4 separate regions of the Homo sapiens genome follow, and regions 1, 2 and 3 are each linked to region 4. The links come from fine-mapping of genetic effects on gene expression. A gene starts in region 4. Each other region holds a variant in brackets. All regions are shown on one strand. Distances are between the middles of the regions. Region 1 overlaps PRICKLE2 (prickle planar cell polarity protein 2). Region 2 overlaps PRICKLE2 (prickle planar cell polarity protein 2). Region 3 has its middle 72 kb from the start of PRICKLE2-DT. Region 4 holds the start of PRICKLE2 (prickle planar cell polarity protein 2).

Region 1 (7,250 bases), 130 kb before region 4:
AAACAACCCACACCAGGACTTCTTCCTTGGATGTATGAAAAACCAGGAAGCATGGTTCTGATCTCCCTTACCTCATTCACCTTCACACTTGGTAGAGATCCCACAACTATATGACAGAAGGAAAGCGCCCTGAATACCATCCTCAATGCCACCTGGCTGCCAAGAAGCCTTTTCACAGTACCAAGGGTGGTATGGATTGGCAGAGCCACTCAGGAAACTGTCAATGACTTATACTTCCTGGGTCTGGGAACAAGCCAGCTATGTTGCTACTGAATTGAGCAGCAATAGGAAATGAACTCAACTCCGAAGTTGCAGTTCTAACCAAAAGACAAGAAGATCAATATTAGGAGAGGTGGGAAAAATAACAACCAGGGCATTGGAGAAGAGAGAACGCTGGAAAAAGATTACTATTCTGGAAATCAGTCTCTTGAAGATGGAATTATGATCTAAGAGGAAGTGAGTACAGGCCCTACTCACAGGAGGAGCTTGTCCAATAAGAGTTAATGGTTGTGATGGAGGAATTAGGTGAGGACCTTAAGTTCTTGCCTCAGGAAATAATGCATTGGGAGTGGGATTCTGGGATGTGATGTGTGAGCTATCACTAGCAGGCAGAATTCCAAATACAGTGATGTCCTTCTCCTCAATAGGGCATTCGCTTGGGGGTTCTGCCATCATTGTAAGGAATTGGCCTTCCTCATTCAGCATTCTCTGTAAGGTTGCATTTGGGGTCAGAAGAAATCTGCAATGGTAGAATTGAGGGAGGTAATCTTGCTAGTAGACAGTTTTACCCTGAAGCTTGTATGTCATTTCATCTCAAGCTCTGAGCAGTTCAGTGCCTGGATGCTCTCTGGGCATCTAGACTTATGCCTCCAGACCCCTCCGGGCACTGGCCATGTGTCAGTTTTTAGGCCACCTTCTTTCTGATGATGGTGGTTGAAGCTTTCTTTGAGAAAGGTAAGAGGTATTCTGAGAAAAACAGAGTTAGGAAGCAACTTTTACTGGGAGAATTTCTTTCACTGGATTTGGGGCCACAGAGGACAGACATATTTTCAACCGTTTGCTAAGATAAGTGATCTACTTTTCCCCCTCTCTTTTTCCAAAATTGCCTTTTTAGTTTCATCAATCAAGGAACTTAAAACTCCAAATTGGACTCGCACAATTTCTACCAGAAACCTGCCACTTTAGTAGCACGGTATTGCAAATTATTTCTTAATCAGTTTGCCAAGCAGTTTACAAACTTACTATACAAACGTAATAGAGTTAATTCTCCGGAGGCTCGGATAATTAATGAAGCATTTAGATATGAAGATAGCATGCGGAAAACAGCCACAACCAACATGTGCATTGCTTTTTTAAAAAAATCAGTGACAATGACAAATGTCATATTAATACCTGAAAAGCAAATTATTTTAATACATCCCGAATGGAGTGCCATTACCATGTCCTTTACAGCCTTCCTTTCCTCAGACCCATCTGGGACGGGGTCTGAAATGCCACTTTTGACATTCTCTCCATAAAAAATACTAGAAAATGTTAACTACTATACTGAAAAGAGATCACGCTCACCTCACCATGGCAGATGGCCACTGAGATACACCGGGCACTACATCGACAGTACATCTCACTACAGGTGGGTCATCCGATGGATTATTTCAACTGCCACAATCCATTAAGGGGAGGAGGAGGATGGAAGAAACCAAGTGCTTCATTTTTAACTGAAGCAAGGTAGGGAGTTTTATTTTACTATAAACAGCACAACCGTTAAATGTCTTCATTAAGCAAACTCACTTTTGAGCCCATTTTCTGACCAACAGTCCTCAAAGTTCAAAATGGAAATACCCTCCCAACAAAGCCTGTTTTTTTAAAGACATTGCACCACTGAAATCTCAGCAGCTCAACCTTCCTGGGTAATCCAGATACTCTGGTTACTAA[G/A]CTGGTTACACTGGACTCTTTCTACAATCTCTGGGAGCTCTTCGAGGTGGTTGTCACCTGTCCTCTGTTTCATTTCCAGTTCTTCTTTTCCCTGACCTGCCTTCAGATTCTCCTTTAACTTCTACCCTTGACCTGCCTTCTGTTTTCAAATAGCCTTGTTCCTTCTCCAGGCATGACATGTCACACACCGTCCCTCGCAGAGCCCCCTCAGAATCCTTCTGTCCCTCAATCCCAAATGCTTAAGTTCATTTGCTTTGAGGACAACCGGTTGTCAGGCTAAGGCAGCAGTTCTGTCTGCCTTGGTAAAGGAAAGCAGATAATACAATCCAGGAAACATGAGCACCAGAACATAATGCCACATTCAAAACAACGTCATGCTGACATCACACAATGGCACCACTCACAGTCACTTTTACTTTCCCCAAGGGATAGATCAACATTAAGTAACTTCAACATTCCCAGCAGGGATGGCATTTCTCACAGAATTTTACTGACACCGGTTGGTTTCTCTAATTGGCAAAAATTACATTTGCAATTTAAAAAAAAATTACTACCACTTTGTAGAAAATAAATTCTACTGAGGGTGGGAGCAGACTTAAGGATGGCTCCTTAAGATGGAACGGAGCATAAAATGCTTTGGGTCTAACAGTTATGTTTTTTCAGCCACAAAAAGCCAAATTGAATATGTTCCTTTGAAAAAGGTCTCACTGACATGTAACAAATTTGTATAGAAAAAAAAAAAAAAAAAAAAAAGGTGGTACCGGGCCACATTTCAATACTACTCAGAGACAATGGTGGATGTGCATGCAAGTCCCCACTGAGTCCTACGATATAGAAATTCCTTTGATATTACAAAATACAAAAATATTTTATCAGAACTCTCATTTACATTGCATTTACAATGGACATGTAAATAACTTAGTCTTGGGTCCTGGCTAATAAACAAATTACTTACTGAAAAAAGGGTCCTAAAAGTAAGAGAACCAGAGAGGATAAAAGCGAGCAGGAAACAATTTACCATCTTGAGAGATGGCAACTCAACACAGAACTGATGGGAAGGAAGTGACCAAGCCTGGCCTCGATAGAGTCTACTGTGTTTCCAAAGTGAAATGTGCAAATAATATTCAACATGCCAAGAACTGTGACTACCTATTGAGTCAACCTGTAACCTTGCCTCCATCTACTGACAGCATTTTCCCTTTTCTCCCCCATAAGCCACCCCCAAAAGCGCTTTAACATTTAAAACAGTGCAAGTTTCTGACTTTACATTCTTAGCTCCCATCTTCTCCCATTCCCTGATCCCAATCATATTAAGAAATGATACAGTTTTTGCTCTTCTGTCTTTTCCTGCTGTGCAACTGTCCTCTGCCACCTAATGTGGAAGATTTGGGGAGGCCGTAGGAGCTGTATTTGTGCAGCAGCTCATCGCTTGTGACGTATCGCAGGCGCGCTGGCTGGGGGATGGGTTCTCCTAGGAAATAGCCCTCGTTGTCAGACTCTGAAGAGGAGGAGCAGGTGGAACACCAATCATACTCGGCGAAGTAGGGTCCCCAGCGGTCCCCAAAGGCATTCTGCAAAGCCAGGTCCGACACAGTCCTAGGGCACTGGCCGTACAGGTCCCTCCGGGACCCATGCCCCATGCTCTCCTGGAAGCTCCGCTGGCGCATAAATTGGTCATAGTCCTCCCTGGCTCTCAGAGGGGGCCTATCTTTTAACCGGGAGATGGCCTCGCGTTCGCTGGCCAGGTGGAGGGCGTTGTCGGAGCGAGAGCGTCGGGAACGCCTGGACCTGTGAGGTCGGAAACGGCGGTTGTCGTCGCGTGAAGTAGCTCTTCTCCGGGTGCGTTCACTCATGGGCTGGATCCTCACGCCCTCCTGCCCTGGCAGCTTGCTGCCCGCCATCCCTCCATCAAAATCAAAGCTCTGATGCATCCTTCCGTGGGACTGCAGGTCTCTGTAGCCAATGGGGTTGCTGAGCTGGTGGAGGTTTCCCTCCATCTCCTGGTACTGCTGGGCAGAGAGCAGGCTGCGAACTGACTCTGCGCTCCGGAACTGCATGGACGAGTTAAGAGTGCCCATGTTGCTCAGCTTCTCAGACACATTCATTCCAGAGTCTTTGCTGAGGTCAGGCATGGAAAATCGGGATAGGTGCTCCTGGCGCTTGGCACCACCATCAGCAGAGAGGCCTGGGGAAGAGAGGAGGGGACCACAGAGATTAATACAGATGTGCAGCAATGGGTATCACTGTCACTGCTGGTCATCTATCTAGGGTCATTATATACCGTTGTGAAGTTGTGTACTGCACAAAGGCCCTCTCAGGGGGCACATGTGCCTGTGAGGGGGTTCTCTCCACTCCACAGTAGGTCACTATCTACCTAGAGGGGGCACTTACTTAAAATGCTTCCAGAGATGTATTTTACCAGTTACTAGTTCCTCCAAAGGCTCATCAAAGTTACTAAGAGCCCACTGTGTATCCTATGTATGATGCTTCCTCTATTTGGAGTTTCACTTTGCAAAGTACTTTAATTACATTTTTGATTCTAATCATGCACTATAAGCTCTGTAGGACAGATATTTTGGATGAGCAAACTTTAAGCTCTAGAGGCTGGATCATGCCCAAGCTGTTTCTGGCAATACCAAACACTGGTTCCACAATATTGGGCCAGTTCACTTCTCTGTTAGCCCGCAGCAGTTTCCTGCTTTGCCTGCTGTCCCTAAGTGGCAGGTGGCTCCCTATCAAAAGTGTCTTGGACACTAAGTGACTCCCTAGATATAGATAGAGAAATATTTACTCTCTCAGACCATTCAGTGAATGCTCCAAGGTTGTAAATGGGTCTCTAGCAGCCAGAAGATGTGTGTGGGACCCCAAGGGACCTCTCGGTCGCACGGGGAGGGACTTTCAAAAGTAAAGCAGTGGGTTTGATGCTCTCAAACAGTGGGTGCCCCAGCAATGGACCTCCATTTCTTAACTGCTGTCAAATGAGCTCTTGGCATCCCTGAGATGAAAACCATTTTGAAGGTAGTGGGAGATACTGACTGCAGTAACTTCCATTTTGCTCATTTTCAGGCAGAGCTCTCTAAGGAGATGTTTAAGAATGGGCCAGGTGGCAAAGTCTCAGCATTTTCCACTCATTACATATTGCAAGGATCAGCAATTTGCCATTCCTGGTCATAGACAACATGCCTTTGGATTGCAATGGCCCATTATCACCCCTGCTACTGATTATTCCTGTCTCCTACTGGGGCCTCCAACTTCCTCTTCCGTGACAAAACCTAAAGCAGTGTTACGAGCACTTTGCAAAATTACTTGGCAATATTTACTAAAGCTAAATACACATATACGTATATGAATTATAAATAAAGCCGCTCTGAATATCCTTGGCCATTTTTTGTGGACTTATGAATTTCTGTTGGGTGTACGACCAAGAGTAGAAATTCCACAATTCTCCATCTTCACTCTTGATTATATATTCATCAGAAGTTAGTAAGAAGGTCCAAGAAATGGACAAGGGTACTCAGAGAAGCTTTCTTGTAATAGCCCAGAAACGGAAACAACTCAAATGTCAATTATCAGGAAAATGGATAAATATATTGTGGTTTTTTCTACCATTCCCCACTAAAAGGAATCCAGGCTCTTTAGAAAGATGGCCAATTCCAGGATAAAGGCAAGGAAATTAAAAGAACCAGGATCTTGTTATGCCATAAAGTGAGAAAGTATTAAAAATAAGATATGGCAGGGGTTTGTCAGAAGGACACAGGGCCTAACTTGAAGGGGCCCCCACTGGCCAAATCTGAACAATTTGAGCACTCAAATATTTAAGTGAAGTAATGATTTATAAACCACTGAAACAAATAGGAATTCACAAGTCCATGCTGATAGCAGATAAATAAAAACATAAATAAATACACAAACAGGGAAAAGAGAGGGCTCTATGTATAGTGGAATGCCAACCGCTGTCAGTAGAGTAAGTTCACAAGAAGGAAGGGGGTGCCAGATTTGGAAAGTCATTTTATAACCATTGGAGGTAGAGTGCTTCACACAAGAATCAAAAAGTGTGCTAAATTTAGGGGGTAAAATTTGATGGGGGAGAGCATTGTTTTAAAGTGTTTCCCTACACATTGCTTATTAGTTGCAAGGGAAGAATTAGTAACTAAACAAAGGTAAAATCAGACAACACCTTGACCTTAAGTTCAAACTTAACATCCCTGGTGAGATGCAACTGCACCCTGCATGCCTCCAGTTGAGATGTACTCAGAAGGGCACACTATCCCTTATGTAGTATTCCAGTCAAGAATGTATTACCCGAATGCATTCAGGAGGAAACATTAGACAGATGCCAAAAGGAGGGACATTTGTTATGAAAAAAGGGACTGTAGTCTTAAGACCAGACAAGACTGAGAGAATGTTCTAGATGAAAGGGTACGAGGGAAACATGGCAATTACATATAATACCTGATCCTGGACTGGAACCTGCTCTTTAGGGAAACTAAATGCTATAAAGTAGGGGTTCCCAGACCTCAGGCTACAGACTGGTTAGGAGCAGGGCCACACAGAAGGAGGTGAGTGGTCAGTAAGGGAAGCTTCATCTGCATGTACAGCCACTCCCCATTGCTCCAACTACTGCCTGACCTCTGCCTCCTGACAGATCAGCAGCAGCATTAGACTCTCATAGGAGTGTAAACCCTGTTGTGAACTGCTCATGCAGGATCTAGGTTGTGTGCTCCTTACGAGAATCTCATGCCTGATGATCCATAACTGTCTCCCATTACCCCTAGATGGGACTGTCTAGTTGCAGGAAAACAAGCTCAGGTCTCCCACTGACTCTACCTTAAAGTGAGTTGTGTAATTATTTCAGTATATATTACAATGTAGTAATAATAGAAATAAAGTACATAATAAATGTAATGCACTTGAACCATCCCAAAGCCATCCCCACCCCCTGGCCCCAGTCTGTGGAAAAATTATCTTCCATAAAACCGGTCCCTGGTGCCAAAAAGGTTGGGGACTGCCTCTATAAAGGATAACTTTTGGTCAACTGAAAAAAAAATGGAACATGGGCAATAGATAAAAGTATTATGCTAAATTTACTGTGGTCAATTAATAATGGTGATAATGTGGGAGAAGATCTTTACTCTTGGGAAATATATATGGAAGGATATGGTGGTAAATGGCCCAGATGGATGCAATTTGCTCTCAAATGGTTTATAAATAAAATGTGTGTGTGTGTGCGTGTGTGTGCATGCATGTGAACATGAAAGAACAAATGTGGCAAAAGGTTAACAATGGATCAATCTACGTAAAGAGTACATTACAGGTGT
Region 2 (7,914 bases), 57 kb before region 4:
GGCAGGGTCTGTATAAGCCCCTCCCTATAGGCAGCTGGCAGAGAGCTATGCCCAGGGGCAATAATGAATGATGCCGGGTTCTGAAGAGAGCCCACTGTTGACCAGTACTCTGAGAAGAAGTAAAAGCCCAGATCACTAGTTAGTTTGGGATTAGAAGCTGGCAATTTGCCTATTAGAGACTTGCACAGCATTCCATCCTCAGAAAAGTCCCTGTGCCATATGCCTCATCAGACAAAGGCCAGGTATAAAAAAGCACGCCCAGTCTCATGTCTTGGGGAATGGGCTTCTGACTCCCAAGTCAGAAGACTGCTTGTAGAAAGGCCTTGTTCCATCATTACTTTGTCATTCTCCCAACTTCCATTGTCGTTATGGAACATTAGGGACAATTGCTAATATGAGATGAATTACTATGGATGCTTGAAAATGCAGAGTCTAGTTGCGGTTCCATCGACCCTCCTCTTAATCACCTCTAATTACTCACATACCCCCTGTCCATTGCCTAGAGCACAGTCAGGCCTGAGAGCCCTTCTTAACTGGTACTTTGAACCAAGCCCTTTCTGATACTGTCTAAGGCTGGCCCAAGTTGGAATCTTCCCTGCACCCTCTAGGGCATGGCCAGTAGATCTGGACCCCGAGTCAAGGCTCTGTTGTTTCCCATCTCTGGGTTCCTGAGCAAGTTATGTGGCTGTTCAAAATACTCATCATAAGACTGTGATGATTAAATGAGAGTGTAGGCACAAGCATGTGGCTCTTAATAAAAATAAATAACACGAATACATGACAATAGTTATACTATCAAGCCTGGCCTACTCTAAATGGAACAATCCAGATGCTTCCTGGACTAGGTCTTGCTCTGTCACCCAGGCTGGAGTACAGTGGCGCGGTCATGGCTCACTGTAGCCTTGACCTCCTGGGCTTAAGCACTCTTCCCACCTCAGAGTAGCAGGAACTACCAGCGCATGCCACCATGCCTGGCTAATTTTTAAAATATTTTGGAGAGACAGGGTCTTGCTATGTTGACCAAGTTGGTCTTGAACTCCTGGGCTCAAGCTATTCTCCTGCCTTGGCCTTCCAAAGTGCTGGGATTACGGGTGTGAGCCACCCCATCAGGCCCACTTTTGAATGGGCAGCAACACTGCTGGCTTGTAGAGTGAGACCAAACCCTGAAGCCACTTATATTAGTCAAAGCAAGAAAAATACGTTGCAAGGAATACAATGGTATTAAAGCTAGTTTGACTTCAGGGGAAAAATGGCAAACTGTTATAAAGGTGTGTGTGTGTGTGTGTGTGTGTGTGTGTGTGTGTGTGTGTGTGTGTGTGTTTTGTTTTGTTTTTGTTTTTAGAAACTTAGCCATGTATATAAAAGGGTCTCATGAGGAAATAGAATATGCCACTGGAAGGTGATTGTACCAAGTTTCTGTTCTCTCTGAGCCCAGTGTCCTCTTACCTCTGCTCTCTTCTCTTCCTGCAGATCTGCTTCTCACCTTCTCAAAGGTTAAGGTTTCCCACAGCACTTGAGTTTGCACAGCATCACTTCAAGAGTCTGTCCTAGAGTGACTCGCTTTTCTCAATTCCAAATTCCCCAGAGAAGGACCCTGATTACCCTGTCTTGGGCAGCGTCCACACCCAGAAATGAGATTAGAGACATTCAGTACTTTGAAAACTGGAGAATAAATGAATCCCAACATGACATGACTGAGTGAAGGTGCAGCCAGCAGTGATGGAGGACTCTGGAGAAACTTAGGAGTAAATAAGTCCCTTGGTGTGCTGAGATCCATCCTAAAGACTGAATTCTGAAGTCAACAGAGGCAGTGACTACTCTTTGGGAACACAGCTCTATCTTTCCTGGACATCTTTTGTCAACTTTTATAATTCAAGCCTACTGATAACCACTCAAAATTATTCCAGTAATTCCTCAAATATACAATATGCTAGAATATCTTCTCACAAGGTAACTAATAATTTGATGGATGACTTAAGAACTTACCTAGGTAGCAAGATGCCCCATTTCTAAAATAAATAAGTTAATATTAATTAACAACCTACCAAATCACTCCCATATCACATGGTAGGTGATGTGGCTTGCTCTGAGGAAGGAGAATGATTTAGTCCTTTCAGGACTTCCAATCCTCTTCGAAGTCCATTGAAGTCCAGGAGAAAAACGCATCCCTCTAATGTTAGCTTTGTGTCGCCTCCTGGTGTTTAGATGCTGGACTTTCCAAATTTTTCACTGAGCAAAGGGGATTAACGGATGGATGGGAGGGAGGGAGAAACAGCTCTCCTGAATTCTTTGGCTGGATACAGGAATGCTGCCTGCATTTTCCTCTGGCATTCTCCACAGTGAAACTACTGTATGGCCCAAAACAAACATCAAGTGAACCAAGGGTAATGGGAAAATACTGAGTATACTTTCTGGCACTACAAAAATTAAATTTGGCACAATCCCTGAAAATCCTGCAGATTGTTCATTTTAGTCCAAACATGTTTCACTTGTTCATTTTTTTTGGAGTAAATAAGCAAATCCAATAGAATTTTGTCAATGATGATCATTACCAAGCTATTACCCATTATGCTGATAACTGTATTTTTCATTCTGTGTGTATTGAACATATTTATTCAAAAGCACGTCTGTTGAATGTGCTAAAGACTTTGCTCCATTTAGACATTCCCAGATAAAGGTGCCCTGTGATTCCACCCCAGGTGAAATCATACTAGGTAACTTTCCCCTAAACAAAAGCATTTTGAACACAATAAACTGGCTTATGAAAATGAAATAGCCAAAGGCCTTTAAGGTGTAACTCTGCAACAGGAAAGGTTTGGCAGCAACTTCAGTGTGTGTCAGACAGATCGCAAGCACTTTAGTCAGTGCGCATATAAAGTCTACAAAGCAAAGCCTCGCCCAGCTGGAAAGATGAGGCTTGTTGGAAGGAACTGCACGTTTGATAGCATTTCTGCCTGGGCAGAAAGATGGAGGCTGGAGAAGCAATAACTCTGCATTTGGGAGAAAAGTGTATGAAAAGTAAGCTGATTTTTTTTTTATAAAGAAGTGTGCAAAGCACTTTATTTAGAGCACTGGTTCTCAAACTATAGCTTGCATCAGAATCACCTGGAAGGCCTGTTAAAACACAGATTTCTAATTTAGTAGGCCCGGGATGGGGACATTTGCATTTCTGACTCCTCTTCAGGTCCTGCTGTTAGTCCAGGGAACACACTTTGTGAGTTTTAGAGCTTTCTACTGTTTTCCCTCAACAACCAACATTATGCAGTTGCCAGGCAAATGGTAGGATTCCCACTTTCTTCAAGAGATCTAGGAAGCCCAGAAAAGGGAAGAGAACTTGTTGGACCTCACCCAATTTTTCAGGTGTCTCCTTCCACACCTAGATATATGATTCAGCAGGGGATTCTACCAGCTCTGGCAAGAACAAGAAATCCTAAGGGCAAAGTGCTCACATTTTTGGGTGGCAACATTTTCCTTATCAAAAGCATCCTTATTTTCTTAGAGCAGGAACCCACAAAGGAGAAGTTAGACTTTCTTGGCCGATTTCAGAATCAATTGTTCTTCACCATCTAGATGCGGAGGGGGCCCAATATTTTGGCTTCCCTGGGCCACACTGGAAGAAGAAGAATTGTCTTGAGCCACACATAAAATACAGTAACACTAATGATAGCTGATGAGCTTTAAAAAATTGCAAAAAAAAAATCTCATAATGTTTTAAGAAAGTTTGTGCATTTCTGTTGGGCCGCATTCAAAGCCATCCTGGGCTGCATGCAGCCTGTGGACCACGGGTTGGACAAGCCTGATCTGAATGAAGGAAGCGGTCATCGAACTATTGACTTACTGAGTGACCCTACGGCTTGACGCGTTTTTATACACAGTATTTCATAAACCTTCTGCACACTCTGGAGGTGGGTATTTCATACTCATCAGATTGAATATCACATAGTTACAAAGTGAGAGAGCCACCTTTGAGCTTGACTTCCCCATCCTCTCCTTCTGTTCTCCTTTATCAAGAAAAAAAGAGACTGAAGAGACTGGCAGATGGATGGGAAAGAAGGAAGAAAAAACCAAATCATACCCAGATACAGTAGATTCCCAATAGGTCTGC[G/A]TGGCTGACCACAGAAACGATGAACACATTTTCCTTTGGTATTACCCAGAACATAACCAACACACAGCTCCCAAATAAAGCCAAAATGAACAGACAGTAAGTGAAAAATCTCCAAATTACAGTCTTTCCACAACACCATGGCATGATGGTAAGAGAGTTGTGGCAGAGTTTTCCCAGCCATATCCATTTTTTTTTTCTTCCTTAACAATACCCTCATTTGACTGAGAGCATCAATATACTCAGCTAAGAATAATATTTCTGCAGCTCCTTAGTAGCTACATGTGGCCTTACACATTCTGGCCAATGACACGGAAGGGTGTGACTTCTGGGAAGCTCTTTTAAAGGAGGCTAGACAGTTGTTAGCCAAGACCTTTTTTTGCCCATTCCCCCTTCTTCCTGCTTCCTGTCTGGAATGTAAACACAATGGCTAGAGCTCCAGCAGCCATCTTGTGTCATGAAGTAACCTTACAAATGGGAATGGAAGCTGTAACCTGAGGATAGTAGGACGGAAAGTTATGAGCCTGGACTTCAAAAAATTTTTAAAATTTTTATACCATGGAGCCACCAGACTAACCCTGGATTGCGTTTCTCTGAACTTCTGAGTGAGAGAAATAAGCTATTTCTTTATTTACAGTCTCTGTTGCTAGGAAGTGAATGCAATTCCTAAATGATACAGCAGTGGTTTTCAAACAGTAGCATACTTTAGAATCATCTGAGGCCTTTATTAAAGATGATGGCCATTTTCATCCCTCTGGGTCTGAAAAGGAGGCCAGAACTATGCACTCTTAACACCTCAGACCACTCCAGGAGAAACACTAGTTTAAGGAAAAGGCAAACACAAACACAAGGTAAAGGCCAACCCTCCTGAAGTGTAATCTCAGACATGAGCTGATACATTTGGAAGGTTTTATAAAATCCAACTTAACCCAGGGACTAATTCGAACACTGATCCTTTATTTCACGTGCCCCCTCACCTGCAGTTTGAGAAGCTTGGAACCTTGTTTAATCTACCTCAATTCGGGGAGGTAATATCTAAAATGCACCTGAGCATCTCAGAAGGCAGGTTGTACAGAGAAGGGAAAGATGCTGCCTGAATTTGCTGCACGTGGTGGTCTTTAAAAAAGTACACAGTGGTTCCCAAATGGGGACCTGGAGGACCATCAGGTAGCATTACAGCTGTGAGTAAATAGGGATGGGCTGCTCATGAGGGCCCCTGTGTTCATTTTGCCCCTATTTGCCAGAATTTCATTACCCAAGCAATAGGAGAAAAGTGCCGTTAAGTGGCATTTAAGAGGTGAAATTGTACCAAGTTTGGCTCCTTCCCTTTTCTCCTGGAGACCCACATTATAATTTTAATTGGTTTACTCAGGAAGCAATTTAGGAAACAACAGTCTAATGCCTAATGCCTAAACAATGTCTCCATCATGTTGAACTCCCCTAGGATTAGGATCAAAATCAGAAATAAAAGCTCATTTGCAGTATTTTCAAAGAAGACTCTTTCAAAGACTCCTTTCTTTTGTTCACACTTGATGTCTAATTCAACAGTGATTCTTGTTGGATGTCGGTTCAAAACATATCCAGAATCCAGTCATTTTCCACCACCCCTGCAGGACCAGTCTAGCTATGACTAAGTGCTCGCCTGAGCTATTGCTGTGGCTACTTCTGGACCCGGCTTTCACCTTTGTGCCTCTGCAGTCGAGTCTCTATTCAGCAGCAATAACAACTCCATTGGAATATAAACCAGGGTGTGTCACTGCTCTGCTCAAAACCCTGGATGGTCTGGGTGCAGTAGCTCATACCTGCAATCCCAGCACTTTGGGAGGCTAAGGGAGGATGATTGCTTGAGCCCAGGAGTTCGAGACTGGCCTGGGAAACAAAGGTAGACCATGCCTCTAGAAACATTAAAAAAAAAAAAAAAAAAAAAACAGCCTGGCTGTGGTGGTGCACACCTGTGGTCTCAGCTACTCTGGAGGCTGAGCTGGGAGGATCACTTGAGTCTGGGAGGTTGAGGCTGCAGTGAGTGGCGAATGCGCCACTGCCCTCCAGCCTGGGTGACAGAGTGAGATTCTATCTCAAAAAAACAAAACAAAACAATACAAAACAAAAAAACTCAAAACCCCCAAAACAACAACCCTGGATTATCTCCCATGCCTCTATAATGCAAAGCCAAAGTCTTCACTATAGCACCATGACCTCCCCACTCCTTACAACCTGGCTGACTCTGTCTCTTACCATATTCCTTTTGTTCAGGTCTTGTGCTCACAATGACCTCCTTGCTGTTCCTTTCACCTCATGGCCTTTACACCAGCCATTCCCTCGGCCTGAAAGGTTATTCCCCCAGATATTTACATGGTGTCATCCTCCTTTCTTCCAGTCTTTGCTCAAGGGCCACCTTGGCTGCCTTCCTTGACTATCCTAATAAATTAGCACCTCTATCCCTTATCTTCCAACCCAGTACTTCTCAAATGGGGGCAATAATACCCCCCAAGAGATATTTGACAATGTCTACAAACATTTTTTGTTATTGCAACTTGGGGAGGGAGCTGCTTTGGCACATATAGTGGGTAGAGGCCAGGGACGCTGCCAAACTTCCTACAATACATGGGTCAGCCCCAACAGCAAAAGATCCCCATCAAAATGCCAACAGTGCTGAAACTGATAAACTCTTCATCTGCTTTTTGTCAAAGAACTTATCAGTTGTTGACAAATGATCTATTTGTTTGTTGACTTTCTCTTCCCTCTAGAATGTGAGTACTTAGGACTGTGTTTGCTGTATACCCCCAGAAGAGGGTCTGGCATGTACAAGATACTCAATAAGTGTTTGTTGAATGGATGCATGCTGTATTCAAATCTTACCTTTCTAGCTGTCTGGGTTATTAGAGGATCTAGACAGACACATACAGCAAGAGAATAAACAAGCGAGATTTCAAGAGGAAACAGAGTAAAACTCATTAAGCTTCTCTTTCATTCCATCAAAGCATTTGCTTTTTTCACCAAAGATTAGTGCTGTGGGGTGGGTGGAGATGCTAAGTAAAGGATGCATGGAATAACTGTCAATATACTGTTTATTTCAGAGGAAGTGACAAAAGCGACACCCATTTGTATTTGAAGCCAGAGAATTTCTTTCAAGTTGAGTTAACTTCGTTTGAACAAACTAAGGAAAATAATTATGTTATGCCCTAAGCCGGTACCATAATTCAGAATCACATGAGTTGCTTTGCTCCTATGCCTGTTAGTTCTCACATGACCACTCTTTCCAACCCTGTTTATTATTTTATTTAGAATATTAAACTTCAATGTTTTGTTAGAAAATACATTCCATTTAGTTTGGAGCATTATCTGACATTTATTTTATCTTGTGTTAAAGAAAAGGTTGCAGAAATGGAAGAACTTGGGGTTTGAACATTTTCTACTTAAGCTACACTTAAATAGACTCCCTCATCCCAATTTTATCAAAACACCCTTTGCAGATTGTCTACGCATTTGCGTATATGCCCTATTAAAAATTCCCCAACAGTTGCTAACTTCATTTGACAACAGTTTCAATACTGCCTTTAGATAAAATACACACATACATAAGTATGAAAAAAGAAGGATGGCAGTTTCTTATAGGGGTAACTTGTTTGGACTCTGCAGTCAGATTGTTTGGGTTCCAATAATGGATGTAACACTTACCATCTGCATGTAGTTGGGCAAGTTATTTGATCTCTTGTAGAAAGTTAATATCTCCATCTGTAAATTGGGGACAATAATATCTACCTTGAAGCATTAATAAGAGGCTCAAATGATATCGTGTAACTAACAAAGAG
Region 3 (7,914 bases), 150 kb after region 4:
CTGTTCTAATTGCTTTCATCAATAGTCACTGTCACCCTCCCTGCCTGACTTTTTATGGTGTCAAGTTGTATCAAGGGGAGAGCTAGGGAAGAGGAAACACTGAAAAGTTCAGCACACAGGCGTTTAAAGTATTTAAGCAGCCTTTCTAGCTCAAGACTTATTTTAAAGCTTCATGTCCTATCTCATTACTTATGAAACTTTGTATTTGAAGTCCAAGTTATACATTGAAATTCAGCAGATGTTTAAGGAGTGCCTACTGTGTACTAGGTACTGAGCTGAGTGCTGCCCATATGACCTCACATCAGACAGATGAAGACTTTGACTTCATGGAGCTTCCATTCTAAGAGGGAGATGGACAACAGACATGGAAACAAACAAATGAGCAAGGTAATTTCAGGTGGGGGGCAAGTGTAATAAAGGAAACAGTGAGATGGCAGAGCACTTGAGGTGGGGTAGAGGTATGAGCAGAAGACCTGAAGGTTTAAAAACACCTGCCATGTGAAGGGCCAGGGGAATGGTCAGCTGGGCAAGAGAGTCAGCAAGTGCAAGGGCTCTGAGGCTGGAACAACCTTGATGTTCCAGAAACAGAGAAGAGGCCAATGTAGCAATTACATGCAATTAGACGGACCGATATCCAAGGGCATTCTGCACGTGCCCAAAGGAGTGCTTCTCCAGAGCCTAGCTTAAGTCCTGCAGAAATGGTGACTTGGCTTCACCCATCCACAACCCAGGCAAAAATCAAGCCATCTTAGATCAACAAGGCAGAAAGGCAAAAGCCATTAGTCGCGATTTTCTAGCAGCTCTGCACAAGGTTCTGCTTACCACCCACACACTCTTTTATTAAGCTAAAATAAGCCTCAGATGAAAACTGTTGCCATCGGTGAAGCTTACTTTAACATATGGTTGATCCAACTGAAGAAAAACACTTTACAAATGCATTTTTTAAATCCCGACTTGCTTGTAGAATGGTTTTGTAAAAAATATTTATCATGCGTCTGGTCTACTGATGTGTTCCAAACGCTGGGGTACAAGGACATGTGTACTTGTCCAAGGGTTCCTTGGTAAACTGATAACGAAGGCGCTCTTCCCCCATGGAATTTGGCTTTCAGGGTTTGATTTGATGCAGTTTGCCAAAACATAAAGAGGTAACCTGTGGTTTTGTAAACTTGGTTAAGGGCAATGTGTTTCTGGCTTGAAAGCTGGCCGGCATGTTTCAGCAGGACAATGCAGCTACTCAAATACTCTCCACTGAAGAAAGCTTTTCCTCACTCTCAGAAGGGGGTACTTTTCTAGCAGAACTCTCTGTTTGGAAAGGTGAGCAGCATGGGCAGAGAGAAGACAGGACTGCGAGATCAAATTGGGATGGGATGGAACATGGGGAGGGATCAGAGCTTCCCCTTGGCTGTGATTGAAATTGGCTAGCAGCTAACACTCAGCGAGCACTTGGTTTGTGTCAGGCAGTATGCTAAATGCTCTTCACATGTTAATCACCTATTCCTTATGACAGCTCTATGAAGTAGATCTTGCTATTACCCATACCCATTTGGCTAGATCGGCAAATGGAGACACTGATGTATATAAGGTCACACAGCTCCCGAGAGGCAGATGTTCTTTGGCAATGAGGATGTGTGGGCCTAGTAGGCACTCAAGGCTCCCTCCATTCTAGTCTGAAGATGAAGTCTTTTCCTTGACCAGTCTAGACCAAGATCTATCAACTACCATTTCTCAAATCCTGGCCATTTGCATTCAACCATGAGGCTATCTCTTCTGCTTGTAGCCCACCACCAATCACTGTAGCAATTTCAACCTTGTCTATACACATCACCTTTGTTATTTGTATTTACTATTGTTTAAGCTTATTAAATTTTTATTGTAATACATTTATTTTATTTTTTTTCAAGACGGAGTCTTGCTTTGTCACCCAGGGTGGAGTGCTGTAGCACTATCTCGGCTCACTGCAACCTCCGCCTCCCAGGTTCAACCAATTCTTCTGCCTCAGACTCCAGAGTAGCTGGTATAACAGGCACCTGCCACCACACCCAGCTAATTTTTATATTTTTAGTAGAGGAGGTTTCACCATGTTGGCCAGGCTAGTCTCAAACTCCTGACCTCATGATCTGCTACCTCCATCTCCCAAAGTGCTGGGATTACAGGGGTGAGCCACCGTGCTCAGCATAATACATTTATTTTAAAAGGAAACTTTATATTCCCATAGAAAAAACAATATATATTGTTATAAATGGACACTGACCATTTACAAAAACTACATGAAATGTCCAGAACAGGCAAATCTATAGATAGAAACTAGATTAGCGGTTGCCTAGGGCTGTGGGGGAGAGGGATGGGGGAGATGACGGTTAAAGGTTACACGGTTTCCTCTTGAAGTAACAAAAATACTTGAGAATTGCCGTGAGGGATATATAACTCTGAATATATTAAAGGCATTGAATTATACACTTTAAATGACTGAATTGTGTAGAATGTAAATTATATCTCAAAGAAGCTGTTTAAAAAAAGTTAATGCCCTCAACTTAAAATGGCAAAGTAACAGGAAAGTGACTTGTTATAAAAAAAAATACAATAAAAGTCAAAATTCTCCTTAAACCCTATAATCTCTCTGCTGACAGATCTGAGGACCCACCTTCTCTGTTAAAAAAGGGAATGCAAAAATGAACTCACTTGCACACACACTCAAAGGGATACAGTAAAAAAAAAAAAAAGACAGATAATAACAAGTGTTGAAAAGGATGTGGAGAAACTGTAATCCTCGTTACATTGCTGGTGAGAATATAAAATGGTGCAGCAACTTTGGAAAACAGTTTGGTGCTTCCTCTGTCTTAAGGATAGAATTATCTTATGGTCTAGCAATTCTTCTTTTTTTTTTTTTTTCCAGAGTCTCACTCTGTTGCCCAGGCTCGGGTACAGTGGTGC[A/G]CTCTTGGCTCACAGCAACCTCCACATCCTGGGTCCAAGCCATTCTTGTGTCTCAGCCTCCTGAGTAGCTGGGACTATAGGCACGTGCCACCATGCCGGGCTAATTTTTGTATTTTTGGTAGAGATAGGTTTTCACCATGTTTGCCAGGCTGATCTTGAACTTCTGACCTCAAGTGATCTGCCTGCCTTGGCCTCCCAAAGTGCTGGGATTACAGGTGTGAGCCACTGCGTCTGGCCAGATCCAGCAATTCTACCCCTAGGTCTATTCCTAAGAGAATTGAAAACATGTCCACATAAAAATATGTACACAAATATTCATAACAACATTACTCATAATAGCCAAAATGTGAAAACAATCTAAATGTCCATCAAATGATGAGTGAATAAACAAAATGTGGTATATGTATACAATGGAGTATTATTCAACCATAAATAGGAATGGAGTACTGATACATGCTACAACATAGAAGAATCCTGAAAATATTTTGCTAAAAGTAATCAAACACAAAAAAAACACATATTATATGATTCCACTTGTAAGAAATGATCAGAAAAGGCAAACCTGTAGACAGAAAGTAGATTAGAAGTTGTCTAGGGCAGTGCTTTGAGTTAGGGTGAAATGGAAAGCAGCTGCTACTGTGTATTAGGAGGTTTCTTTCAGCGGTAATAAAATTATTCTAAAATTGTAGTGACAGTTGCACAACTGTGTGAATATACTAAAAAAAATTGAATTATATAATTTAAATTGGTAAACTGTACGACATGAATTACATCTCAACAAAGTGGTTAAAAATACAATGAAAACTTAAAACATGCCATTGCCAAATATATATATATCATCCCAGTAAATTCGCTGTGACTTAATAGTAATTGCCGTGCTGCACACAGTGGCTCACACATGTAATCCCAGCACTGTGGGAGACCAAAGTGGAAGGATCACTTGAGGCCAGGAGTTCTAGACCTCATCTCTACAAGAAATAAAAAATAAAGAATACTAATTACTATAATTTGAATATGCACCCCAAAAATATGCACTGGAAACTTAATCCTCAATGCGATACTGTTGGGGTATAGGGCCTAATGAGAGGTGATTAGGCCATGATAGTGAAGTGAATAATTAATGCCAATATTGTAGGAGTGGGTTCATTATAAAAGGGGGAGTTTGGCCCCCTTTATCTCTTTCTTTCTCTGTCTCTCTCCTTTAGTACTCTCCTGCCATTCCACCCTCCATCATGGAATAACAAAGAAAGAAGGCCTTTGCCAGGCACTGCTTACTTGATCTTGAACTTCTCAGCTCCAGAAATGGGAGCCAATAAATTTCTGCTCATTATATATTACCCAGCTTCTGTTATTCTGTTACTGAAGCAAAAAACATAATAAGACAGAAATGCCTCATCAATTAATTATCTAAAATACCTTGCACACAACAAATGCCAAGGATTATATATTTAATAGTTGGGCAAACATTATGTTAGGCCTGCCAGGGTTGGAGCTCTGAATGAGAAGTTCAAATGAGTTATAAACCCAAGATTCTATACAATCAGCTTCTCAGAAAAATTGAAGTGCTTAGCTTTGTTCTCAGAAGTCTAGGGCATAATTTATCTTTCTAAGCTTCAGTTTCCTCATCTGTAAAAGGAAACTATAACTCTTAGAGTTATTTTTTATCATATAAGCTCCCATTTTGTTAATTCTTTCCACCAAGACTTATGATGGAAGGCCATAATATGAGCCAGACACTGTTCTAAACCAAAATTATACAAAGATGAATAATTCAGAGAGGTCCCGTCCTTACAAAGTTTTATTCTAGAAGGGACACATTTTCTGCTAGATCTAATATATTATTAAACTTTACAATATGATGGCTGAGTGTTAAGTGCTGTGAAGAAATTATTAATGGGGTAAATGAGATAGATAGAAGGTGAGGGATGAGGGAGGGCAGGCTGCTATTTAATAGAGGGTGATCAGGGAAGTCCTCTTTGAGGAAGTCTAATTTGAGGAAAGCCTAAATGAAACAAGGGAACACACCATGCTAAGATGTGAACGGCAGGAGCCACAACTGGAAGATGTGGTGTACTCAAGGATCATATCTGACAACAGCAGAACACACAATGGGGAGAGTGGAAGGCCATGAGGCTGGTAAAATGGGAATTTGGGGACTAAAGACCATGGTCATAAGGTCTTAGATTTTATTGTCAGCTTGAAGGGAAGCCATTCAGAAGGTTCTGAGTAGAAGGGGGATATATAATTTTAGAACATCACACTGCCTGTGGTGTGAATGGATTATAAGAGGCCAGACTGGAAGCAGGGAGGCCAGGGAGAAGGTCACTATCAGAAAGAAAGTAAAAGAGGGAGGTAGTTGGACCTATGGTGATAGCAAAGGACATGTCCACACAGGTAAGATAGAGCTGGGTTTTGAAAGCAGAGCTGATCCAAGCTTGCTGAGAGTCTTACGGAATGTGTGAGAAAAAGGAACAATCCAGGAAGGAACAATCTTGGGTTTCTGCCCAAAGCAGAAGGACTAGACATCAGATATAACTGCTTAGAGCAAGGTCTGGAACTGAGAAAGTACTCAAAAAATATTAACCACCATCCTGCCACTATCACTATTACCAATATCATTATAACTACCATTATTATTATAACTTCCTCCATCCCACCTCCACCCTCATTACAGCTACCACCATCATGACAATCACTATCATCACCACCACCATCAAAAGCAAAAAGACAGCATAGTACTGGAAGTCCTAGCCAGAACAATCAGGGAAGAGAAAGAAATAGAAGACTTCCAAACAGGAAAAGAAGAAGTGAAATTGTCTCTTTCTGCTGATGACATGATCTTATATATAGAAAGTCTAAAGACACCACCAAAAAACTATTAGAACTGATAAAAGAACTCAGTAAAGTTACAGGATACAAAATCAACTTACAAAAATTAGTAACATCTCTATACACTAATAACAGACTATCTGAAAAATAAATTAAGAAAATTCTATTTATAATAGCATCAAACAAAACTTAGGAGTACATTTAACTAAGGAGGTGAAAGGTCTGTATACTGAAAACTATTAAACCTCAATGGAAAAAATTAAAGATGACACAAATAAATAGGAGTATATCGTGTGTTCATAAATTGGAAGAATATTGTTAAGACGTACATACTACCCAAAGCAATCTACAGATTCAATGTAATCTGTGCCAAAAATGTCAATGTCATTCTTCACAGAAATAGAAAAAACAATCCTAAAATTCATATAGAACCACAAAAGATCCTGAATAGTCAAAGGCATCTTGTACCAAAAGAAAAAAGCTGGAGGCATCATATTACCAAATTTCAAAGTATATTACAAAGCTATAGTAATCAAAACAGCATGGTACTCATATAAGAAGGTACATCAACCAATGCGATAGGATGTATAGCTCAGAAATAAACCAGCAAATTTATAGTCAATTAATTTTCAACAAAGATGCCAAGAACAGCAGACAATGGGGAAAGGAATAAGTGTTGATAAAACTGGATATCCACATGCAGAAAAATAAAACTGGATCCTTATCTCACCACTTATAAAAAATTAACTCAAAATAGATCAAAGACTTAAATGTAAGACCTAAAACTGTAAAACTATTAGAAGAAAACATAGGGGAACAGCTCCATGACATTGGTCCGGGCAGTGATTTCTTAGATATGACCCCAAAGGCACAGACAACAAAAGCAAAATAGACAAATGGGATTGCATCAAACTAAAAAGCTTCTGCAAAGTAAAGGAAACGACAGAGTGAAGAAACAACCCACAGAGTAGGAGAAAGTATTTGCCAAATCATACATTGGATAAAGGGCTAATACCCAAAATATACTACAAGGTGCTCAAACTACTCAATAACAAGAAAACAAATAACCCTATCCAAAAATGGTCAAAGGACCTGAATAGACATTTCTCAAAGAAGACATACAAATGACCAACAGATATATGAAAAAATCCTCAATATCATCAGAAAAATGCAGATTAAAATCACAATGATCTATCACCTCACACCTATTAAATTGGCTATTATCAAAAAGATGAAAGCTATCAAGTGTTGATGAGTAAGTATATGAAAAAAGGGAACTCTTATACACTGTTGGTAGTATTGTAAATTAGCCATTTTGGAAACAGTATGCAGTTTCTTCAAAAATACTAAAAATAGAATTCCCATATGATCCAGCAATCCCACTTCTAGGTGTACATCCAAAGGAATTGAAATTGAAATGTCAAAGAGATGTCTGCACTCCCATGTTCACTGTAGCACTATTCACAATAACCAAGATACGGAAGCAATCAAAGCATCCACCAATAGACAAATGGATTTTTAAAATGTAATATATACACATGCACAAGGAAATACTATTTAGTCTTTAAAAAGCAGGAAATTCTGTCATTTGTGACAACACAGATGAACCTAAAGGCTAAGTGAAATAAGCCAGGCACAAAGAGACAAATAATGTATGATCTCACTTATATGTGGAATTCAAAAAAGTCAAACTTCCAGAAGTAGAGAGTGGAATGGTGGTTAATAGAGGCTGGGGGCAGAGGGAAGCAGACAGAGAAAGGGGGAGGCATTGGTCAAAGGGTATAAAGTTTCACTTTTACAGGAAGAATAACTTTGGTGGTCTATTGCACAGCATGGTGACTGTAGTTAATAATAATGCAATACAATATTATTTCAAAATATTTAAGAGAGAATTTTAAATGTTCTTAAAAAAATAAATATTTGAGGTCACAGATATGTTAATTTGCCTGATTTGATCATTGCACAATCTACACATGTATCAAAACATTACATTGTACCCCATGAATATATACAGTTATTATTTGTCAATTAAAAACAAAATGAAATTTTTTTAAAAAAAAAAGAGAAGTCTGGGCAATATAGTGAGACCCTGTCTCAAACACTCAATTTTTATGTGTGTGTGTGTATATATATATACACACATGTATATATGTA
Region 4 (7,914 bases):
TTGGAACTGATGTTTATTAAAAGAAGCACTAGACGGGTACCACGGTTTGTCATCTGCTATGTCATTTTACTTGGATTTCCCAAATACCTTGTTGTTATTGATTTCTAATTTAATTCTATTGGCCTTCAGTTTCTCCGTTAAATAAATATTAAAATTACTGCCCCCTGTTGTTCACAGATCGGGATTAACTGGGAAATATGCTCAACATCCAGTCAGTACCAGGAATTGGGCAAGGGCATTATAGCCGCTATCTTCACAGCAATCCCATGCATTCAGGGGACTTTATTTCCAATATTCATATGAGGAAGCCAAAGTTCAGAGAGGTCAGGCAACTCTCCTGAGATCATACCTCCCATCAGGAAGTAAGGGAGGTGGGCTGTGGTTAAGGTATAAATATTATTCTCCGTGCAAAACACAACTCTACTAAAGATCAGTAGCAACCAGGAACGACCAACTCCCAGTTCCGAGTTTCTTGGGAAAGAATTTTATGGCAGACTCCTCTCACTCTTGTAATTCACTTTTGTCTTTCAGATCCCTGTGTCAGAGTTCTAATTCCCCAAAATTAAAAAGAAAGATCTTGGGAGGAAAGGGAGAAACAGCAGTCCACTTGTGTGACAGAAGTAGGCCCACCGGCATGAAGGAGGCAGACCACGAGCCTGGCAAAATTGTGCCATAGCAGTGACACAAAACAAAAGCAGACAGACTGGGCCATGGTAGGCAGGCAGGCAGGGGAGGGCTATTCCTTTCCCTTAGCAGCCAACCCATAAGCTGAAGGCACCCAGATGGTGGCAAAAATTCAGCCTTGGAACTTCTGAGGAGCCAACCAGCAGGTTAAGCACATATTCAATGGCCTCCCTGGATAGAGAAGAAAATGCTCAATATCTGCACTGAAAAGAATTAAGAAAGAAAAGGACTGTCTCTCACATGCATAGGTGAAGCAGAAGAGAAATCTAGAAATGCATTGATTCCAACTGGGACCCCGCAGCTTTCTACATGTGACTTGTCAGCTGCCAAAACAGGATGCCTTCTTTAAGGCTGCCTAAGCCCCAGTTAGTTCTAAATGATTTTCATTATACCAGCTGGTCACTTTCAGTTCTGTGAAATACAGTAGTTCTGGATAATATACTTTATTCTGTCAACTCAATCAATAGGGTGGAAAGTTTCTTTGAGTGGGAATCATTTGGATATAACAGTACCAGAGATGGCATCTTTTCTGCTAGCAAAACCTTTCTGCAGGCAAATGGATGTGAACATGTTGCCTTTTCAATACTGTTTTTTAGCAACAACACTTATAATGATAATGACAAAATGGTAACAATGACAACAACAACAACAACAATAGCAGCTAATATTTACTGAATATTTACTATGTGGCTGCCACTGTGCTCTGCATAGGTCATCTCATTAAATCCTTACACCTATCACCCTAACTATAGATTCCATTGCTCTCTCCACTTTACTGGCAGGAATGGGTAGCTTTAAGTATCTTCAGCTCTTTCCAGCTCCAGAGTCTGAGCCCTGGATAAATATCATCTCATACTATCTAACCTCTAAGTTCCCTTCTCATTCTTTAAGCTTCCATAAATGCATCTTTCTTCCTCTATTTCTATTTTATTCCCTCACATTTCATGGGTAAATCTTTATAAACACACCATTTCAAACAATGCTATTTTACTCTTTCTGGCTGCCCCGTGAATCTTTATAGACTGAGATGCCCGATGGAGCCAGTATGTTTTAATTTTCACATGAAAAACAGAATTCCCAAGGGGAAGGAGCATTTGATGGAAAGGCAAAACCTTTATAAGCACTCAAGGCATTAAAATCCAAATTTCCAAAATATGGTAATTATGTCAAAGTTGTGACTTACTCTGGAGCCCTTGGGGACCCTCATCCTGACCCATCTGTGAAAGCCATCAGCAGGCAGTAAGCCTTCTGAGGAGCAGGATTACAGCAGCCAATTTGGCCTCTAGCAAAGAGGCAAGGCTGCTTCATTTAGTTTAAGTCTCACTGAGATGGTTTAAAACACTCTTTGGGAAGAGATGTGCAGGCAAAGCAAATCACAGCCTTACCAGCTGCAGATTCAGTACACGGCAGTCTATGTCTACATATTCATGGCACACTGGAGCCCTCCCCTGACTGTGCTCATACATGCATTGATATGGGAAGCAGAACTCTCTCACTGGGGAAATAATCTATGTGCCTAAGTTAGACAAGAGCCACATTTGGACCAGCGGATGGCATCACATCTGGTATGGATCGCTAACCTCAGTGTGATTTGGCCCAGCCTGGATTATTTATGATTCATAAAAGTCCCACTGGACCCCAGCATAGTCCAAGACCACATAACAAAAAACCATGGGATTAAAAATCTGTATTTCATTGCAAGACCCCCATGGCAAATTAGTAATGCTATGATTGGTTTTCGAGAAGCCAAGAGTGAGGAGAACTAACTATGATCACTCCCTCAAGAAACCCAGCATAGAGGGCAAACCGAATCATGTGTTCAGCCAGGCTATGCAGTCATATTCTGAAGCTCTGTCACCATTTCTAATCTGAAAGCAGTGTCTAAAATTAAACCTAAATAATTTGAAAGCCATTTCTTTACCTGGAAGTCTCAGCTGAGTCCTTGTTCCTCAGATCCCCTAATGGTTTCTGACATCATGTGTTGAAATGACTACTGTACATGAACGCTATCAGGTATTTGGTCTGTTAGCCCCTTTCCCCATATTATTATGGTTTTTTAAAGAAAGCTACACTTTTAGAGAAACGCTGCTTCTTCTTAAGCATCAAGATTTAAGCGTTTCTTCAGGACTCCCTAGAGCTGTGACATAACACTTTGTAATCGAGCTTTCTAATCAGCATAGAAAAGGCAAAAGGGGTCGCAGGGCCACCAAAAATGCTACCTGGCCAAGAAAACGAAGACCCAATATCCTCCCCCAGTGCAAAGGCCCTAGATCTGGCTTTCTCATCCTCCTTAGAAAATATACTGCTGTTTAATTTGTGAATTAGAGCAAATTTCTTACCCACCTCCAGGGAGGATGAAATGCCCAGTCTCGGAGGAAGCTTCTGCCAGACCCTTGGAGCTTGTCAATTGTCCCAGTTCACTTTCTCCCTGGATCTGACTTCTAAGAACGCAAGCAGGACCTCAGGCAGCCAAAGCATCTTCTCCTCAAACCCCCTTTTCAGTCTGAACCCTTCCTGAAGCTGGCAACAGACTCAAGCCGAGCTGCTCCACATTCCCTCAGGGAAAACAGCACTGCTGGATCCAGACTCTGCTGGGGAATTCACCAAGCAAGAGAAAAAAAGTATGACTTCTACTCTTCCTCTAGATCAGCCTGAGTGCTCAGATCGCCTTCCGGAGGACCCCCAGTTTCCTCTTAACTCCCCTTCTTCATGACAATCTGAAGGAAGAAGTCATAGACTCCAGCCCAGCGTCACCAGCTGATCCTGAGCCAGACCCGGGGTGACTAGTCAGCTGCTCACAGAGCTCAAGCCACTGAACCAGGAAATGTGCTGCTTGGTCAAAAAATAATAATAACTCTCGGTGGCGCTGCTGGTGGTGCCTGAGAAGTCGCTGTTGCAGTGCTTGCATCCTCCGCATGCTAATGAAGCTGTGATGTCAGCAAGTCAGTCACGGCATCTGGACGTCCCATCCTGCTGCCCAGTGCTGAGATTTATTTACATGTAAATTAGCCTTGCCTTCCAAATCAATAATCCCCAAGCCAGGGAGAGGGGAAGGAAGCCTTTGCTGGATGCAAAGGCCCAGCTACGTAACCTCCAAATGAGCATGAAAAAAATCACATATAAGAAGAGAGGCTTTAAAGACACATGCCTATTTTTTTTCTTCTTAAAAGCTGTGCTCTTAGGTGCCAAGGTTCAGATCTGGGCACAATTATCAACCTGAGCGCCTGTTTCAGATTATATGCTGCACCAACCTAGGAGTGGAATCAGAGCACTCTTTTTTTAATTAAATGCTGTGTCAAGCCTTCAAAAATGCCTCTCCTTTTTTTTTTTCTTTCTCTTCTCTCTTCAACTTTCATTTTCGGGTGTTGCTTGTTTTTTGGCCTGAGACTATGTCACCTTTGAGTTTTTGTGCACCTCGAAATAAAGCACAAGTGACTCCTTTCCTCACGTGCTTGGGTGGTGAGTCAGTCAGCTGCCCTTTAACCCCTTACCCCAATTCCAACTGCATGCAGAAGAAGACAAAGCATAAACCTTCCCAGGGCATCTGAAGACCCTGAGACCCTCAGAGAGCATTGCTTCCATCTCCTCATTTTACAGATTAGAAAATGGAGACAACTGGAGAAAGGACTTTTCTAAAGTCACACCAGGATTTCAGCAAGGATGGGTCAGAATCCACATTTCCTAGACCTCAGATAGAGCTTTTGTTGAATACCTTTGGGGTCTCCGAGCTCCATTTTTATACACCACTAGGCGGCCTAACCAAGCAATCTGGAAGAAAGGAATCTATACATTTGGAGAGCCCTGTGTTCAAATCCTGCCTTTCCTTCCTGCTAGCAGTGTGATCTTAGGCAAGTAACTTAACTTGTGGGATCTTCAATAACCTCATCTGTACCATTCACTCATTCAATAAATATTTACTAAGCACGTACTCTATGCCATGCACAGCTCTAAAGGCTAGGTATAAACACAGTCTCTGCTTTCAAGGGCCTTATGGGCTACTGCAATTAAAGAAAGTAAAATATTGAATAGAACTATGGTGAAGATTAACACAATATCACATACTCAATAGCTATTTCTGATATTTTGAATGAAGTTAGAAAAATTCACCGAGGCATACTATCTACTAGGCTGATCACTGTTCCTAGCATCTGAGTATTTCCATGGTCATCTTTAATTGTTTAAAATCATATATTCCTTCAATGCTGCCTGTGCAGTATCCCGGGCCAGGAGAGAGGCAAGAGCCAGGCAATATTCTGGACTCTGTGCCTGTGATAAGGAAGCACTGTGAGTGAAAGTAAAGGGTGAGGGAAAGGTTGGGGAGGCTGGGAGGGAGGAATATTCCATCATGCACAGAAGTGTCCCAAAGGACAAAGCAGCTAGCACGGCTCCTTGCCCACACTCCCCCGCCTGGGGAACCCACTCTGATGAGCTCTGCCCTTCCAGCTGCAGTTCCTGAAGCTTCAAATGAATTTCTTTGTTGGATGTGGGGAAGTTAAATTATGTCTTTTGTTGTATGTAATTGTATTAATAATGCTTAATAACTTCTTTCAGAATGCTTCTCTCTAGTTCCCAGAAGACCTTTCATGGTGAAAATCATGAGACCTGGAATAACTTCTCAGTAAGAGAAATAAAATACAAGCAAATGAATAACACTCAGCCTTCAGTTTCCATCACACAGAACTCAGAGCGTGTAGGGAGGCAGATGGTCTCCCCAGACCTCAATATCCTTCAAAAAGTCAATTAGCAAGTCTAACAGTTTGGGGCCCCCAGTAGCCAAGTGGAAGCAGTGACATTCTAACCCAGTGTGGCCACGAACAAGTCACTTCAACTTTCCATGCCTCAGTTTCTTAAAAATGGGTACACTACTCTCTCATCTACTCATGATCAGCATGGTCATATAAGAGGCAATTCACAGGTGATCAACAATGAAATAAAGAAGACAGCTGAAACATAGCAAGAGATTACTCTTCACCTGGAACAGATGTGACACATCACTACCAACTTCATAAGAATTAACATCATAACATGGAGTCTAAAATGGATTGCCTGGGGTCAGACTCTGGCTGTGACACTTGCTAGGTCTATGACTTGAGGCCTGAGGTCCTTATATGTAACCTAGGGCATAATGATAGTGCCTACCTGCATGGGGCCATTGGGAGAATCCAATGAGCATTAATGTGAATCATTTAACACTGAGCCTGTTACATAGCAAACACTCAATAAGTGTTAGCTATTGGTAATATTAATAGAAACAATCATGCTTCCACCATTAACTTCAGCGCAAATTAGTTAAGTAACCAGTTAAAATTCAAAAGGTGGGGAGAAAGCGGTAAAGGGAAGACTGCAAAATCATCTTTATTCCTAGAGCATATCTCAAAGTTCTATCTAATGTGGGTGAGCCACTGATATGCCATTTTCCATATGATACAATACAAATGCTTTGAACTGCTATGAATCTAGGAAATAAAGGAGTAAAAATGACCAAGAGGCGGGCTCCCTCTTCTGAAACTATACACCAGGACAAGACAACTATATTTTTGAGATGAATACATGCTTCACCCATTCATTCATATATCCATTCACTCATTAAATAAGCTCCTACTATTTGCCAGTCACTGTGCTAGGGTCTGGGGACAACATGGTGACCAAGATACACATGGATCCTGCCTTAAAAGAGCTTGGCAATCAGAGAGAAGACAATTAAGTAGGCAATTAGAGTAGAATGGGGTGTGTGTTATGGCAGGAGGCATGCAGAGTCCTCAAAGGCCTAATTGCATTCAAGAGAGGGATGGCACAAAAGCATGCTGCCCAAGTCCTTTTGCCAGCACACGCTCTGTGAGCTCAGCTTGGTGATGAGGAAGCTGGATATCTATGCATCACACTTACACAGAATATTAAAATTACAAAATCCACAGATTGTTAATTCCCTGTGGTCATTATTTTCATCCTGGAGACCATTCTAATGAGGTGTTTTTTTTTTTACAAATTATACTGGTAGGTATTAGAAAAAGTGAGAAAAAACTACTTTAAAAATTTCAGAGACTTAGTAAATAGGAACAAAACTCATATTGTTTTTCTAAAAAACAGTGAAATTCCACATTCATGACAGCAAACTTCATGCGAGTAAAGGCAGGGAAGAACAGGTAATACATATGAGAAACTCAACCAAATGTTTATTAGGGATTTGTGAAGCGGAGGACACTCTTGTCAGGAGACAAGGATGCAACTGTCGACCTTCAGAACTTTCTGTTTAGGTAGAATGATAGGATATTTATACAAATGACCATAATTGCATATAGTATATAGGAAAAAGGACAAGGAAGACAAAATTAATTATGGCAGAGGTGATCAGGAACCAGGAAAAGTATGATCTGGGTCAGGCCCAAGGTCAAAAACGCTTTTACTTTTTTGGAATTAAAAAACAATTTTATAGTGGGGGAAGGCCTTACTAAGCATGACACAAAATCCAGAAGTAGAAAAAGGCTGCAAAAATTTGACCTTAGTCAAATTCACCTTCTGCTAGAGGTGTTCCAGGCAGGAATAAGAACATGAGTAGGAAGGAAAATTATGAACACAAATGCATAATTAAGAGACATCTGCATGGACACAAGACAGCAAAACAGCAGCAACATGACACTGGCAGGTAATAACAAAGAGACAGCTCCATGCATGCTGGAAAATCAAATCATCTTTCCATTCTAGCCAGCTTTAGGCAGCATCTTGTTAGAGGATTACAGGGAAAGGTCAAGTACATCTCTACTGGTCAGGTTACAGAAGGGAAGGGTAAGTGACAGGAAGGGTGGTAGCCTCCTAGATGAAGAGCTGTAATGAGGAAGGCTGCAATGAACAAGTTTTAAATCTCTGTTTCTACAGGTATAAAATAAGAAGGAATGGATTTAAACGACCTAAAGAGGGTCCTAAATTCCTCTTTAGGTCATTTAAAATCTTTCTTGGACCTAAGGAAGACTTCTGAATATTGAGATAAGAACTGACATGGGTCACTCAAGGAAATGGCAGTGTTTCAGTTTTTGGAGAACTTTAAAAAGACAGACATCACTCATCCTAGCTCATTTAGATTACTACCTTCTGGCCCTGCTATTGGGAAATTCTAATTGTTGTAAGGGATATTACCAAAGTTTCAAACCACTCATCTAATAAGGTTTCCCTTTTCAAATGTGTGCATTTCTGTGTGTGCGTGCTTTTAAATATTTTACTCAAGAGTAATCCTGA

What was found. PIP is the estimated chance that this variant, and not a neighbour inherited with it, causes the effect.
Region 1: its variant is the best candidate, but not a certain one, in a credible set for the expression of PRICKLE2 in sun-exposed skin (GTEx, PIP 0.78).
Region 2: its variant is the best candidate, but not a certain one, in a credible set for the expression of PRICKLE2 in testis (GTEx, PIP 0.71).
Region 3: its variant is the best candidate, but not a certain one, in a credible set for the expression of PRICKLE2 in stomach (GTEx, PIP 0.54).

The regions. Positions count from the first base shown.
Region 1 is chr3:64,095,809-64,103,058 of GRCh38, forward strand. It overlaps PRICKLE2 (prickle planar cell polarity protein 2), which reads right to left. Exons shown (of 8, transcript NM_198859.4): 8 at 1-4,117. The coding sequence ends at 3,243. It overlaps PRICKLE2-AS1 (PRICKLE2 antisense RNA 1), which reads left to right. Exons shown (of 3, transcript NR_045697.1): 3 at 1,115-7,250. Among named protein-coding and RNA genes, the nearest start is that of PRICKLE2-AS2, 4.0 kb to the right of the region's middle. The variant G/A (reference allele first, on the strand shown) is at 1,933.
Region 2 is chr3:64,164,696-64,172,609 of GRCh38, forward strand. The region is part of intron 2 of PRICKLE2 (prickle planar cell polarity protein 2); the gene reads right to left. Among named protein-coding and RNA genes, the nearest start is that of PRICKLE2-AS3, 19 kb to the right of the region's middle. The variant G/A (reference allele first, on the strand shown) is at 4,106.
Region 3 is chr3:64,369,619-64,377,532 of GRCh38, forward strand. No RefSeq gene overlaps it. Among named protein-coding and RNA genes, the nearest start is that of PRICKLE2-DT, 72 kb to the right of the region's middle. The variant A/G (reference allele first, on the strand shown) is at 2,932.
Region 4 is chr3:64,221,883-64,229,796 of GRCh38, forward strand. PRICKLE2 (prickle planar cell polarity protein 2) reads right to left here and starts at 3,584. Exons shown (of 8, transcript NM_198859.4): 1 at 3,028-3,584. RefSeq lists a silencer at 3,471-3,765.